Linked DNA regions of Homo sapiens: region 1 is linked to region 2. Evidence: fine-mapped expression QTL. A gene starts in region 2. The other region holds a variant in brackets. All regions are shown on one strand. Distances are between the middles of the regions. Region 1 overlaps SESN1 (sestrin 1). Region 2 holds the start of SESN1 (sestrin 1).

Region 1 (8,335 bases), 52 kb after region 2:
GGCGGCTGGCCGGGCGGAGGGCTGACCCCCCCACCTCCCTCCCGGACGGGGCGGCTGGCCGGGCGGGGGGCTGACCCCCCCACCTCCCTCCCGGACCGGGCGGCTGGCCGGGCAGAGGGGCTCCTCACTTCCCAGTAGGGGCGGCCGGGCAGAGGCGCCCCTCACCTCCCAGATGGGGCGGCTGGCCGGGTGGAGGGCTGACCCCCCACCTCCCTCCCGGATGGGGCGGCTGGCCGGGCAGGGGGCTGACCCCCCCCACCTCCCTCCCGGACGGGGTGGCTGCCGGGTGGAGACGCTCCTCACTTCCCAGATGGGGTGGCTGCCGGGCGGAGAGGCTCCTCACTTCTCAGACGGGGCAGCTGCCGGACGGAGGGGCTCCTCACTTCTCATACGGGGTGGTTGCCAGGCAGAGGGTCTCCTCACTTCTCAGACAGGGCGGCCGGGCAGAGACGCTCCTCACCTCCCAGACGGGGTCTCGGCCGGGCAGAGGCACTCCTCACAACCCAGATGGGGCGGCGGGGCAGAGGCGCTCCCCACATCTCAGACGATGGGCGGCCGGGCAGAGACGCTCCTCACTTCCTAGATGTGATGGCGGCTGGGAAGAGGCGCTCCTCACTTCCTAGATGGGATGGCGGCCGGGCGCAGACGCTCCTCACTTTCCAGACTGGGCAGCCAGGCAGAGGGGCTCCTCACATCCCAGACGATGGGTGGCCAGGCAGAGACACTCCTCACTTCCCAGACGGGGTGGCGGCCGGGCAGAGGCTGCAATCTCGGCACTTTGGGAGGCCAAGGCAGGCGGCTGGGAGGTGTAGGTTGTAGTGAGCCGAGATCATGCCACTGCACTCCAGCCTGGGCACCATTGAGCACTGAGTGAACGAGACTCCGTCTGCAATCCCGGCACCTCGGGAGGCCAAGGCTGGCGGATCACTCGCGGTTAGGGGCTGGAGACCGGCCCGGCCAACACAGCGAAACCCCGTCTCCACCAAAACCAGTCAGGCGTGGCGGCGCGTGCCTGCAATCGCAGGCACTCGGCAGGCTGAGGCAGGAGAATCAGGCAGGGAGGTTGCAGTGAGCCGAGATGGCAGCAGTACAGTCCAGCTTCGGCTCCGCATGAGAGGGAGACCGTGGGGAGAGGGAGAGGGAGAGGGCTAGAGCTACATTATCTTATTGCATTAGATTTTTTTAAGCTTGTAAATATAATATTTTTTACTTATGTTCCAAAGTATATGAATTATTGAAAGTTGAGGCATTGGTTTTTCATTTAGAGCAAAAGACAGAATACGCTTTTTTCAGCCCATATGGGTTCAAAATCAAATTCTTATTTTCAATCAGAGTTCTTCCATATCGTGCCTCACATTTATTTATTTCAGAAACATGTATTATCTACTCTGTGTAACATTCCATGCCAGACACTGGAGAAACAGATAAGGCAAAGGTCTCATTCTCAAGGAGCTCACAGACAGGTGGGCAAGATAAACAGGCAGTTATGGTATATACTAGTAAGTGCCATGCAAGAGAATTCTGCAAAGGCTTTGGATGGTTGGGGATGAGGGGATACAGAAAGGGAGTAGCCAGGGTAAGCGCTGTAGAAGAGTAATGCCTCAGCTGGCTCTTGAAGCCTGACTAAGGAGAGGCCAGTTGAAGAAGTGAGAGATAAGGTGCTCTGGTCAGAGAGATTAGCATGTGCAAAAGTACAGAACCATGAGATTTACTGTGTTTGAAGAACTGTAAGTAAGTTGAACTCAGTATCATTGGAGACATAGGCAGAGATGCAATCTGAAATGGAATTATATGCCATGTGAAGAATCTGGATTTTATTTTGAAAGTTAGGGGGAACCTATAAAGGATTATATCATCATCAGATCTGCATTTTGGAAAGACTTCTCCAGTGTAGAGAATAGGCTAGAAGGTGGCAAAGGCATTGAGACAGAAAGGAGGCTATCGTTCTAATCTGGGAGAGACATGGTGAGGGACTGTTTTGATGGGGTTGGGAGTGAGGTTGAGGATAGGGGATAGATTTTACAGTTTCTAGGATGTAGAATATTCAGAACTTGACAAGAGGTTAGTAAGGGTGTCAGAGGAGCCTAGCTAGGCACAGACTTGCAGGTGTCTGCACTGGACAACTGGAGGTATAATGAAGGCCTTCGTGGAGATAGGGAATATAAGAGGTGGTAGCGTAGTGCAATGGGTTTGGGGAAGGTGATGAGTTCAGCTTTTTTTTTTTTGAAATGGAGTCTCGCTCTTGTTGCCCAGGATGGAGTGCAGTGGCGCAATCTCAGCTCACCGCAACCTCTACCTCCTGGGTTCAACCGATTCTCTTGCCTCAGCTGCCCAAGTAGCTGAGATTACAGGCATGCGCCACCACGCTCAGCTAATTTTGTATTTTTAGTAGAGATGGGGTTTCTTCATGTTGGTCAGGCTGGTCTCAAACTCCTGACCTCAGGTGATCTGCCCTCCTCGACCTCCCAAAGTGCTGGGATTACAGGCGTGAGCCACTGCGCCCGGCTGAGTTCAGCTTTTTATTTTTTATTTTTTGATTCGAGATGTCTGTGTGACATCAAGATTAAATATATTAGGTAGATAGAGAAATAGGCCTCAGATTCAGGAGAAAGGACTGAGATGTAATTACAGGTTTGGTCAGTGATGAAAGCGTGAGATCATTCAGGGTGATCTAGATGTAGATATTCTCTTATGTTTTCTTCTAGATGTTTTTTAGTCTTATATATTAAATTTAGGTCTGTGATCCATTTTGAGTTACTTTTTGTTAAGGGTATGAGGTTTATGTCTAGAATCATTTTGTTTTCTTTCTTTTCTTTGCGTATGGATGTCCTATTATTTCATCATTACTTGGTGGAAAGACTATCCTTTCTTCCTTTCTCCATTGAATTGCCTGTACTCCTTTTTTTTTTTTTTTTTTTTTTTTTTTTTTTTTTTTTTGAGGCAAGTTCTCACTGTGTCATCTAGGCTGGAGTGTGGTGGTGTGATCACGGCTCACTGCCCTGGTATCCTTGGCTCAGACAGCCCTCCTGTCTTAGCCTCCCAAGTAGCTGGGATCACCGGCAGGTGCCACTATGCCTGGATAATTTTTTTTTTATTTGTAGTAGTGGAGTCTCCCTGTGTTGCTTCGGCTGGTCTTGAACTCCTGGGCTCAAGCAATCCTCTTGCCTTGGCCTCCCAAAGTGCTGGGATTACAGGTGTGAGCCACCATACCTGGCCACTTCTTTGTTAACAATAAGTTGACCATATTTTTATCAGTCTATTTCTGGGCTCTCTATTCTGTTCCATTGATATGTGTATCTGTCCTTTCACCAATATCATGCTGTATTAATTATGATAGCTTTATAATAAGTCATGAAAACAGTTAGTATGACTGTTCTAGGTCTTTTGCCTTTCCATATAAAATTTTGAATCAGTTTGTTGACATTTACAAAATAGCTTGCCAAGATTATATTTGGAATGTTGAACTTACAGATGGGAAAAATGGACACCTTACTAGTATTGAGTCTTCCAATCTATGAGCATTGAATATTTCTCCACTTATTTGGATTTTTGATTTCTTTGATCAGAGTTTTGTAGTTTTTGGTGTATAGAGTCTATACATATTTTGTTGGATTTATGCCTATTTTCTTTTTTATTGTAATTCTTTTAATTTCAAATTCCAGTTGTTCACTGATGGTCTATAGAAAAGCAATTCACTCTTGTATATTAACTTTGTATCCTGCAACCTGCTCAACTCCCTTATTAGTTCTAGGA[A/G]TTCGTTGTTTTTTATAAATTCCTTGGGATTTTCTATGTACATAATTGTGTCATCTATAAGTAGGGACAGTTGTTATTTATTCCGTTTGTTGTTTTTGTTGTTGTTGTTGTTTTTTATCTGTATGGCTTTTATTTACTTTTCTTGCCTTATTGCCCTGACTAGAACTTCCAGGACTATGTTGTGTAAGAGTGGTGAGAGTAAATATTCTTTCCTTCTTCCCAATCTTAAGAGGAAAGCATTCCATCTTTCACCGTTAAGTATAAAAACAGCTGTAGGTTTTTGTAGAAGTTTTTAAGCTGAGGTAACTCCCACTCTGTTCTTATTTTTCTGAAAGTTTTTAAAAATCATAAATGAGTGTTAAATTTACTCAAATGTTTTTCTGCATCAATTAATATGAACATATGGTTTTTCTTCCTTAGCCTGTTAAAATGGTAGATTGCATTGATTTTCAGATGTTGAACCAGCCATGCATTCCTGGAATAAATCCCCCTAAATCTTGATATATAATGCTTTTTATACATTGTGGAATTCTGTTTGCTAATATTTTGTTTAGGATTTTTGCCTCCATTTTCATGAGGCTGTATTTTTCTTTTTTTGTATTGTCTTTGTCTGGTTTTGGTATTAGGTTAATACTAGCTTCATAAAAATAATTGAAAATTTTTCCCTCCTTGTTTTCTGGAAAATATTATGTAAAATTGGAGTTAATTCTTTAAATGTTTGGTGGAGTTATCCAGTGAAATAAACTGGATTTGGAAATTTATTTTGGGGGAGTTTTTAAAAATCACAAATTCAATTTTCTTAATAGCAATAGGGCTATTCAGGTGATCTATTTCATAGTAGGTGAGTTATGGAGTTATGGTGGGAATTGACCCATTTTGTCTAACTTGTCAAATGTATGAGTATAGAATGTTCACAGTATTCCATTATTATCTTTTGGTCTTTGCAGGTTTGTTTTTTTTTTTTCGCAATAATCCTCTGTTTCATTCCTAATAGATATTGGTAATTTATGTCTTCTCTTAATTCCCGTGTCAGTCTTGCTAGAGGTTTTTCAATTTTTTTTTCTTTTCAAAGAACCAGCAGTTTGTTTCACTGATTTTCTTTTACTCTTTTGTTTTTCTGTTTTCAAATTCATTGATGTTTGTTCTTTATTATTTTCTTCTGTCTGCTTGATTCTCAGTTTATACTGCTCTTCTTTCCCTAGGCTCTTGACATAGAATTTTAGATCATTTATTTGAATTTTTTATTTTTTAATGTATATATGTAGTGTTATAAATTTCCCTCTCAGCACTGCTTCAGCTGTGTCCCACAAATTTTGATATGTTGTATTTTCATTTTCATCCTATTCAATATATTTTTTAAATCTCCCCGATACCTCCTCTTTCACTCATGAATTATTTCTGAGTGTGGTGTTTAGTTTGCAAATGTGTCCAGGCTTCCATTTTCCTATTATCTTTCTATTATTTACTTCTAGTGTGATTTCGTTATGATCAGAGAACACATACTTTGCATGATTTTCATTCTTTTAAATATATTCAAATTTATTTTATGGCCATGATGTATTCTGTTTTGGTATATATTCCCTGAGCATGCTAAAAGGCTATGTATTTTCTTATTAGGTAGAGTATTTTATAAATGTTGATTACATCCTGTTGGTTTATAATATTGTTGAGTTCCTCTACATTTTTGCTGATTTTCTGTCTAGTTGTTCTAGCAATTGTTGAGAGAGGAATGTTGAAGTCTCCTGCTATAATTATGGATTTGTTTATTTCTCCTTTCCGTACTACCAGGTTTTCCTTCATATATTTTACAGCTCTGTTTGGTGGATGTACATTTGGGTATTGCTATATATTCTTGGTGGGTTTAACTTTTTATCATGATATATAATGTCCCTCCTTGTCTCTGGTAATTTTCTTTGCTCTGAAGTCTACTTTATTTGGTATTAATATAAAAATTCCTGCTTTTTCAAAAAATGTAGTAAAACAACAATTATGGTAAATAACTTCTACCGCTTTTTCATTGTCCTCAAAATCCCTCCTTTGGCTTAATAGTTACTTGTTAGTGGCGTAAGTACTTGTACAAGTATGTTTGGTAGATTTACTGAGTTGTTGGAGATGAGAAATAGCAAAAGGTCATCTGCTATTTTTATGTTGCAATTTTATTTTATTTTTTTAAATTATTATTTATTTAGTTTTTGAGACAGAGTCTCACTCTGCCACCCAGACTGGCACAATCACAACTCACTGCAGCCTTAACCTTCTGTGTTCAAACAATCCTCCTGCCTAAGCCCCCCAAGTAGCTGGGACTATAGGTGCATGCCACAATGCCTGGCTAGTTTTGGTTTGTTTTTTTTTTTTTTAATAGAAACAGGGTCCCACTATGTTGCCCAGGCTGATCTCAAACTCCTGGGCTCATGCTAATCTCCTTCCTCAGCTTCCCAAAGTGCTGGGATTATGGGCATGAGCCACTGTGCCTGGCCTGCAATTTGAAATGATGCACACTCTGTAAATTGAGGGTATGTTATTTTAAAAATTTATGCTAGTTTGGGCCAGGTGCGGTGGCTCACGCCTGTAATCCCAGCACTTTGGGAGGCTGAGGCGGGCAGATCACGAGGTCAGGAGATTGAGACCATCCTGGCTAACACGGTGAAACCCCGTCTCTACTAAAAATACAAAAAATTAGCTGGGCGTGGTCGCGTGCACCTGTAGTTCCAGCTACTCAGGAGGCTGAGGCGGGAGAATCGCTTGAACCCAGGAGGCAGAGCTTGCAGTGAGATGAGATTGCGCCACTGCACTCCAGCCTGGGCGACAGAGCGAGACTGTCTCAAAAAAAAAAAAAAAGATTATGCTAGTTTGTCACATATATGTTTAACAGTTCATTTGTTTTCAAGAAGTTAAATTCAGGGAAGCGACACCAAGAATTCCTGTTTTAATTTAATCATTGTAGTGGGACACCTGATGTAATTTGCTGGCGTTACCCTAAGAGTCCTTGGACAAGTATGTACACAAGGAATGAGAATGGCACAACTAAAATGATAAATTCTTAGTAACTTTCCCACATTTAACAACTAAATTGACAGAGAAATCAGAAGTCCAAAACAATAAATGAAACCTTTTAATCCTTCTTCAACCCCAGTAATTTATTATTACTCCCCCTAAAAAATCCTCAGTCGTAATACTTTTCTGCATAATTTGTTCAAAAAGGTGTATTTAAATATAATAAAAAGGAATGTCATATAAAGGAGAGGAGACTTGCCAAACTAGATTATTTCTCTTGTGAAAGAAGGGAGAGTTGGGGGTTGTGGTGGGGGTAGTTGTTGCTTAACTTTTATTAGTTCTGTAGTTGAAGACTAGCAATTCAAATAATAATCTCTTATCTCATGACTGAAGTTTTTACGCTAAAGATAATACTGTACTTGGTATCAGTAGGCCATCTCTTTCCAGGTAATTGTTTTCCCAGTCGTGGTTCCTAAGTGAGCTCAGCCATACACATTCTCTCACAGTCCTTCATTTGACTGTTGGTACATACACATTTGTGAAATCCCAGCCACAGCTGTGATGCAGTCTGTGGCCATGAAATAATCCCCCTTGACTGTGCTTTCTCCTCTCTCCCATCCTGCTTCCTTTTCAGAGTTGAAGCCACAATAATTCACTTCACTAACTTATTTTCTATATGAACAAGACTCTAGTTAAGACAATAGAAAGATCAACAAGGTTCTTAAAAAACTGAATTGGTAGCTAAAATAACTTTTACTAGAAACTTTGTAGTTTATGAAAATACTGGTTCTCGTTTCTAGTAACTCATTTCGCCATTTGGGTTAGCAAGTTTAGAATCTACAAATGTAAATCATCTATATATTTTGGTTTTTAATCCCAGTGATGGGACTATGACCCCTCCACTTGAGATGTTTTAGTAGTGCTTATCAAGATAAAGATAGCCAGTGCTTGCTGGCAGTACTCAGTAAGAAAAGTCACCAGACAGCTCTGTGATTTGCAGATTTGATGTTCTTGCCTCCAAGTTGTCTTAAATTGGACCTCATCTTGAACTGAAAATCGTGAAATACAATGATGATACTTTGACATTAATAGTTACTGTTTGTAAAAGTGAAGGGAAATTACAGAAAATTCTCAGTTAATCATGTTTGAGAATGTAAGATGGTATGATTAATAAGCTATTATGACTTAAATGATTTATGCAGTATATACAATTTATATTCCATACAAATTTGTGAAGTAGGCAAAATTTATCTTTGGTCATGGTCTTCCCTACCCTCTATAGTATCCCTTCCTTGCCCTCAGGCACAGAGCCTCTTCTTTCTTCTTCTTCTTTCTTCTCCTCCTCCTCCTTCCTTCTCCTCTTCTTTCTTTCTCCTTCTCCTCCTTCCTTCTCCTTCTCCTCCCTCCTTCTCCTTTTCCTCCCTCCTTTCTTCCTCCTTCTTGTTCTCCTTCTCCCTCCTTCTTCTTTCTTTCTCTTTTTCTTTCTTTCTCTTTCTTCTTTTCTCCTCCTCCTCCTTCTTCTTTTTCTTTTCCTTCTTCTCCCTTCTCCCTTCTTTTCTTCTTCTCTTTTCTTCTCCTCCTCCTCCTC
Region 2 (8,335 bases):
TGGATTATTACTTTAGTTTCCTAACCAGTCTCTCTGCTTCCACCCTTGCTTCCCTATGGTCTATGCTCAACACAATTTAAAAGAAATATTCACTTCAGGCCAGTTGCAGTGGGTTATGCCTCTAATCTCAGCACTTTGGGAGGCTGAGGCAGGAGGATCACTTGAGGCAATCACTTGAGGAGTTCAAGACCAGCCTGGGCAACACAGTGAGATCCTGTCTCTACAAAAAGACAAAAATTATCTCAGTTATGTAATTTCAGTTAAAAAAAAAAAGGAAAAAATACAAAATTAGCTGGGCTTGTTGGCACGTGCCTGTAGTCCCAACTACCTGGGAGACTGAGGTGGGAGGATTACTTGAGCCCAGGAGTTCAAGGATGCAGTGAGCTATGACTATACTCCAGCCTGGGTGACATAGTCAGATTCTGTCTCAGGAAAAAAGAAAGAGGCCGGGCACGGTGGCTCACACCTGTAATCCAGCACTTTGCAAGGCTGAGGTGGGTGGATCACTTGAGGTTAGGAATTCAAGACCAGCCTGACCAACATGGTGAAACCCTGTCTCTACTAAAAACACAAAATTAGCCAGGTATGGTGGTGCATGCCTGTAATCCCAGCTACTTGGGAGGCCGAGGACGAAGAATCACTTAAACTTGGGAGGTGGAGGTTGCAGTGAGCCAAGATTGTGCTATTGCACTCCAGCCTGGGCAACAAGAGCAAAACTCCGTTGAGACAGAGGGAGAGAGAGAGAGAGAGAAAGAGAGAGAGAGAAAAGTAGTCATTTTTTAAAAGTCAGATCATGCCCTCATCTGCGCAAAACTCTCCAATGCTTTCCCAACCCAATTAAAAATGTTAGTCCTTTCAGTCACCTACATGTTCTCCTACCATTACTTCCTTTCTCTGTGACCTCATGTTATTCTCCTCTTTGTACTCATTGTGCTCCAGCCACACTAGCCTTCTTGCTATTTCTCAAATGCGCACTCAGGCTTCTGCCCAAGGCCTTTGCACTAATTCTCTTCATTAGAATGTTATTTGCCCAGGCATCTACATGGTTTATTCCCTCCCCTACTTCATATCTCAATTGTCCCCTTCTGGATTATGTCTTTTCTAACAACCTTATTTAAAAGTGAACCTTGCCCCTCACATCCTGGCACTCCCCATTCCCCTTCCCAGTTGTTTTATTCTCCACTGCATTTGTCTTCATTTCATTTACTAAGTGTTTTACATATTTATTTATTATCTCTCCTCAGTAGAATGCAAGCTCTATGACAGTAGGAATTTTTATATATTGTGGTCAATGCTGTATCTTCAATGTCCTGTTATATAAAAGGGACTCAACAGAGATTTGTTGAGTAAACGCGTGGGTGAAATGGAATATGAGAACCAATGACTGAAAAATGGACTGTATGGCTGATCTGGAGGGCAATATATGAAGTTAGTCTGAAAGAGTACCAGATGATGTCAGGCTTTATAAAGGAGTTTTGTCTTTAACAGTAGTAGGACACCACTGAATAGTTTTAACCAAGAGAAAATCTGATCAAATCTGCAGTTTCAAAAAATCATTCTGGCAGATATAATGGAGAACTAATGGAGGAGGGTCATTGTGAATAATTGCTACTGTAGTGGTCTTGAGAGATTATCGCAGTTTGAAGACAGGTGGAGAGAAAAATATATTTGAAGGATATTTTGAGAGATAAGGTTGGCAGAACTTCATAATAATTTGGCCATAGAAGTATGAAGGGCAAGAAGAAATAAAGAATAATGTTTAGCTTTCAAATTTTCACAAGTAGATGGATAGTAGTGTCCTTTGCTGAAATAAGGAACACTGAAAAAGAATTAGATTCATAAGAGATAACTATGCATTTGGTTTTAGGTATGTTGAGTTTGAGATGCTTTTGAGATATCCAAGAAGAAATATCCAAGAGATATTGTGAAAGCTGAGAGGTGAAGCTGAATGGAGCTATTCATTTGAGAGTCATAGGTGTTGGTGAAGCCATGGGTATACATGAGATCATATTTAACTACGGCATAAAAAGGCACCCAGCCTTAAGAAACTACCCGACCCTTTATGGGCTGGATAGAGAATGAAGATCCCAAAAAGGAGATGAAAACGGAATGGTTTTTGTTTTGCTTTTTCAATCACACTCATAAGTTATTCCCTTTTTAAAATTCAGATTCAAACTAGAAGTGTCAGAATGTAACAAGGCTTTTGAAATTAGACCAATTCATCAGAACTATGCATCTATTCAAAAATAGCTCACTTACAGAAACGATGTAAAGAATTCACAATACCTGTCTCTTTGTAGCTTCTAAGTGCATCAATACACAAAAAGCACCCTTCCCGTCCCACCCCACACCGCCAAGTATGCATGATTTGGCTTACTGACGTTTCCTGAAAGTACCCTATCTCTCACTCTGGGCCTTAGCATATGCTGTTCTTTTGGTCTTCATTTCCCCTGGGATGAAGATTTCCCTGACTTTCCAAGATTGGGCTAAGTCATCTCCTTCTAGACATCCCAGTGATATCATGTATTATTGTAACCGTATGTCTAACAACTAGTTCCTCTAACTAGTAAGACTGTCTTTTTCATTGTTGTATACTCAGTGCCTAGCAAGACGAAATTTTTAGAATTTAGTGCAATGCAATTCTGCAATGTAAAGAATTAAAATCTACACCGATTATCAGTCCACTGATGGCCGTTCAAACCTCGACTTTTCTCAAATAATAACTTTTTAAAAGCAAACTAATTTTAAGCAAATGACTGAATCTTTTGAAAAAGTCGACTAAGTTTTGGAGACTTTTACGGTTTTGCTTTCTTTTTCCTGCTGTATCCTTAAAGCCTGCAAGAATTCCTATCTAGGAATACTGGGGATTCTTTTACGAGATGGATTTGACAACTTGCTTTCAAAGCCCTGCCTAGGATTTCATTTGACTGAGCAAATAAAGCCCAGAACATCCCTAAGCAAAGGCAAACAAAGGTGCAAATGCGCGGAGATCCCAAATCCACCCCGCGTGTGTCCACAAAAAAGGGCGGAATCAGAGGCAGCAGCGCGAAGCTCCAGTTTCCACAGCATCCTTCCTTCTTGGCCTTACTTAGGCCGCTCCCTGCGACCCTTGGGATCAGGATCCCAAATCCTTGCCTCACCCACCACACCCCGCGCTTGGGCAGCTGGACTAGTCCTTCCCACGCAAGTCACTGGAAAAAGTCCTTGGACTAAGGGAGGCCACCCTAGATGGCTTTGTCTCCAAAATCCCAGAGGAAATGGAGGAAGGAAAAACCCTGTCAAGGAAAGGTGACAACCCAGCTTACAGTGCTTACCAAGCAGACGCTCTCAGTCAGCCCCTGCCACCGCTAACCGTTGGTTCGCGGGCACCCACAGGCAACGTCGCGGTGGCCCCTGGGGGTTGTAGTTTCTGTCGCAAACAAAACGCGCCGGCAGCATCGAAACTACATTCCCCACAAGTCAACGCGAAGACGTCCTACCGACTTAAATCTGGGGTTTGGAGTAATGAAGAGGCCGTCACTACTTTTAGGGTGATCTTAAATGTAGACTCAATTTCTTCCAGGAGTCCCTTCGCGCCCTCTTTCTTTGTCGTGCTTGTTTTATGTGTGACGAAGTCTCAGTGTACTTCTACGTCTTACTTTTTCCTTCCCCTTCTCCAGGACAGAGTCCAAACGTCCGGGAACGGAAACCGCCTCAGGGCGCAAGCTTAGCGCCTCCGGGGGCGCTTGGCCCAGTTCGCAGTCACGCATGCGTAGCAGCCGGCAGTGGCTGGCAGCCGCGCGCGGCGCACTTGGGGTCCGGAGGGTAGCCTGCCAGAGGGCGGGGCTTTTTCCTAAGGCTTTGCCTCGGCGGGTCGCGTCTGCCTGGGCGGGGAAGAAGGCGCTGGGGCCGGGGCGGCTCCCGGTTTGTGCCGGGCGGAGAAAGGGGAGGGGCTGGGGGTGAGGACCCCGTCTCCACTCCCTGCTCCCGCCCTCTGGGCTGATCCCCACCGATGGGGCTGGGCGAAGGGCGGGCTTTGCGCCTCGGGCCCCGCCGCCCCGCCAGCTCCGCGGCCCAGCCTGGCGCTCGAGGATTGCCAGGGCCGCCCTGTGCCCTCTGGCTCGGCGGTGGTGGGCGAGGGCTCAGGGATCGGAGAAGTAGCGTCTTCCCGGGGGTGCCGAATTGGCGGGGCTGGGGGACGCTTTTTTTCACCGCCGCCCGCCGAGACTACGGCTGCCCGAGACTGCCGCCCTCCGACAGCGCCCAAGCCTCCGGCCGCTGCGGCCAGTGGGCCAGGGTTCGGCGAGCCTTCCCTGCCGGCGCCGGCCGGCTGCTGAGGCGCTGGGAGGAGCTGCGGAGGGCGGGGACTGGTGTCGGAGAAGGGGCGGGGTGGGAACGCCGGAGAGAACCCGGTGGCTGCACAGACAAAAAAGCCCCGAATGGCTGGAGGGCGTTCAGCTGTTAACAGCCTTTTGGGGCAGAGCACGGATTTGACAGCTCCACAACGTGAGGATATCCACTGACCCCGCGAGACGGAGGAGAACGCTTCCCCGAAATTCTCTGCCCACCAAAGCCAGCGCTGCAAGGTTGCAACTTTCAAACTTTGTTTTTCCAGAAAGAAGACTGCCCTTTCGTGTACAAGGAGAGGGTGAGAGGGTGACCTAGCTTGTAGATCGGCTGAAGGCACCAGTGGTTCCAAATGTCACCCAGATGTGTGTTTTCATGACGATTTGATTTCTCTGATTTTATTTTTACATTTTTCATTTTAAAAATACAAAGCAATTTTTTTGGGGCATGCTGAAAGGTAACTGAAGACCGCAAAGGAAAAACTATTGTCATGGCTGAAGGAGAGAATGAAGTGAGATGGGATGGACTCTGCAGCAGAGATTCAACTACTAGGGAGACAGCATTGGAAAACATTAGGCAAACCATTTTGAGGAAAACCGAGTATCTTCGTTCGGTGAAAGAAACACCTCATCGTCCATCAGACGGGCTTTCAAATACCGAGTCTTCGGATGGGTTGAATAAGCTACTTGCTCATCTGCTTATGCTTTCTAAGAGGTGTCCCTTCAAAGATGTGAGAGAGAAAAGTGAGTTTATTCTGAAGAGCATCCAGGTAAGGAAGAGCATTTTAAATACAACTATGTCTCTACTACAGTTAAATTTTACTTGCCGTTATTCACGTTGTGTTTGTTTCTATTAGGTTGTTATGTAAACTTTTATTATGAGTTTACATCTTTAGAGTGTTCTGTAAGTAAACAAGTAGTGTTTTTCTAGAGTTTTAGGCAGAAACTGCTTTGCTCCTGGAAGAATATATGAAAACTACAGTTAATTCCAAGTAAATACTTGTTTTTCCTTATATTTCTTTTTACATGTTGTTGGAAAATGTAGCCAGTGTTTTTTTTTCACATTGTCACAGTGTTCTGAGTGTAAAGGCTCACATTTAAAAGCCTCTAAAATGATAAAGGATATTAAATGTTTCCTAGTCAGCCTGTTCAAGATAATTGGTGGAACAATTTTCTCTTATTTTTAAAAACAAAACAAACCAGGATGTGTTCTCTAAATGCAACCTCTCTTTTTTCAAGAAGAGAATTATATAAAATAATAAAAACCTATCTTAAAAGAAGCTAATATCTTCATGTTGAAAAGGTGGACCCAGGTGGGGTATTTGATAGAAACACTTTTATGGCAAATTGCTCAACTAGCTTTCTCTGTGTTTGCCTGAATTGTTTCTTTTTCACATGTGTAGCTATTTAAGATACGAGTGCAGCAGGTTAAAAATATTATAGTTTTTCCTCCATTTCGTTCATAATTTATCCTGTTTTATTACAAGGTGTCTTAGAATACTTTTTTTTAAGTTTTTAGATATTGACAATATTCAGCAACACCTTATATATGCTTGTCAATCTTTACATTTCTCAATCCACGTGTGTTGTCCAAAGTCCTGTATGAGAGATTTTTAAAATTTAAAATGTACTTGGGTAACTATGTAAGTTAAAAGTGACAGTTTTTATATACTGGCTTGAATTTAGTTTAAAGCAACAGAAAAATAATATCCACAAAATGAAGACTCTATTTAAGATCTTGGGATATTTCTTCTCACTAACACTTTGGAAACAATTGTTACAATTCAGAGTTACCCGAGAGGAATTAATATACTAGGTAACTGAAGTTTACCCTTTGAAACACAAAAAGTTATTTCTCTATCTTCTAGACTGTAGTGACTGTAACAACCATTTTTGTCCATAATGGGGTCATCATTATGCATATCAACTATTGTTGTGCAGCAAAGGGTGGAGGACTGACTATATGATCCATTAGTTTTTGTATTTTTGTGTGTAATTTTTATAGTTTTTCTGTTCTTTCCTTTGCCGTCAGGATACTTGACTTTGGTCTCTTCCTGATCTTTCATTTTGCTGCTTAATTCATATTAGAATGGGAAACCAGATAACCAATCGTGTTAAGAGTTATATTGAAAATAAAAGTAAGCAGGCTCTGGGGAGCATAGTATCAAAGGATTTCAATATAATGATAAATAAGTGGGTACTGGAGTCAGAGTTGGGCTCAAATTCCACTCCTTTACTAATGTCCTTGCCTGTAACCTTGGGCAAATTCCTTGACCTTTCTTAGCTTGGATTTCCACATCTGTAAAATGGGAATAACAACACAGAGCTCTTGTGGGAATTAAATCAGATGTAAAGTACTCTGGTATATATAGTAGATGCTCCTCTCCCTTTCATAAGTGAAATACATAGACTATGCAATATATATTTCAAGACTCTTTCATCCTGCAAAAGGACTCAGGAATTTCCTGGGAAGGTTCCCTATAGACTTATACTCTTTTTTTCCATCTCTGCATCTATTGTACAATTATAAAAGGCAATTTACTTATATTGTGTTATAAGCACATGCTTTTGTGTCTGTCTCCCATAGGAAGGCTATGAGTTCTTAAGAGTACTGGCTGGGACCTGGAAGCTACTAAATAAATATCCAGTGGATGAACAAATTTATACTTTCTTTCTGTTTTTCATCAGTAGTCTGAATAGATGAAGTTTTCAGTTTAGGGAGTTTCCACCCCAGCATCATTCATTTATGCTTGCAGTTATGCAACAAATGTTTATTGAACTCCTGCTGAATGTCATTCTGAGAACTGAGGACCAGTGGTAACAATTTTGACATCATACCAAAGGGAAACAGACCATAAAGAAGTAAACAAATATAAAATTTAATTTTAGATAGTAAGGGAAAGCTTTCCTGAGGCAATGACATTTAAGCAGAGACATGATAAATGAATAAATATTACCCATGTAAAGGTGAGATTTGTGAGGGGACATTCCGGACATAGGGAACGGTATGTATGAAGGCCTCATGCCAAGGAGAGCAGATGAGTTCTAGGAGCTGAAAGTAATGCAATATGGCTGGGGCAGACAGTTTGAGGGTGGCGTGAATAGCTTAAGAGGACATACTCTGGAGTTTGGCAGACCTGGCTGCGATACTGTCATGTGTCACTTAATGATGGTGATACACTCTGAGAAATGCATCGTTAGGTGGTATCATATTTGTTTGAACATCATAGGGTGAAATCACACAAACCTAGATACTACACACCTAGGCTATGTGTTATATAGCCTGTTGTTTCTAGGCTACAAACCCGTACAGCGTGTCACTGTACTGAATACGCTTTGGCAATTGTAATGCAATGGTAAGTATTTGTGTATCTAAACATAGAAAAGGTAGAGTAATAATATAGAATTACAATTGACCCTTGAACAGCATAGGTTTGAACTGCATGAGTCCACTTATAGGAAGATTATTTTTTCAATAGAAGTTATACTAAGTTGGGCGGGGTGGCTCACACCTGTAATCCCAGCACTTTGGAAGGCTGAGGTGGAAAGATCTCCTGAGGTCAGGAGTTGGAGACCAGCCTGAACAACATAGCAAGACCCATCTCTACAAAAAGTCAAGAAAAAAAAATTAGCTGGGTGCAGTGGAGCACACCTGTAGTACCAGCTATTCAGGAGGCTAAGGCAGGAGGATCGCTTGAGCCCAAGAGTTCGAGGTTGCAGTGAGCTGTGATTGTCTCATTGTCCTCCAGCCCTCTGGCGACAGAGCAAAACCCTGTTTCAAACAAACAAACAAACAAAAGTTACACTTGAGTATGCCTGCCTCTTCTGCCTCTCCTTCCGCCTATTCCACCTCTATCACCCCTGAGATAGCAAGACCAACCCCTCCTCTTGATCCTCCTCCTCAGTGTACTCAAAGTGAAGACCGTAAGAATGAAGATCTTCATGATTATCCACGTCCACTTAATGAATGGTAAATATATGATCTCTTCATTATGATTTTCTTAATAACA

Evidence for each region.
Region 1: its variant is fine-mapped to the expression of SESN1 in whole blood (INTERVAL, PIP 0.91).

The regions. Positions count from the first base shown.
Region 1 is chr6:109,038,914-109,047,248 of GRCh38, reverse strand. The region is part of intron 1 of SESN1 (sestrin 1); the gene reads left to right. It also overlaps a transcript of ARMC2 not described here. Among named protein-coding and RNA genes, the nearest start is that of SESN1, 52 kb to the left of the region's middle. RefSeq lists an enhancer at 834-1,401 and a silencer at 1,489-1,783. The variant A/G (reference allele first, on the strand shown) is at 3,754.
Region 2 is chr6:109,090,555-109,098,889 of GRCh38, reverse strand. It overlaps SESN1 (sestrin 1), which reads left to right and starts at 4,044. Exons shown (of 10, transcript NM_014454.3): 1 at 4,044-5,095. The coding sequence starts at 4,817. CEP57L1 (centrosomal protein 57 like 1) reads right to left here and starts at 3,383. Exons shown (of 11, transcript NM_001271852.3): 1 at 3,315-3,383. RefSeq lists enhancers at 3,397-3,656, 4,527-4,676 and a silencer at 3,717-4,416.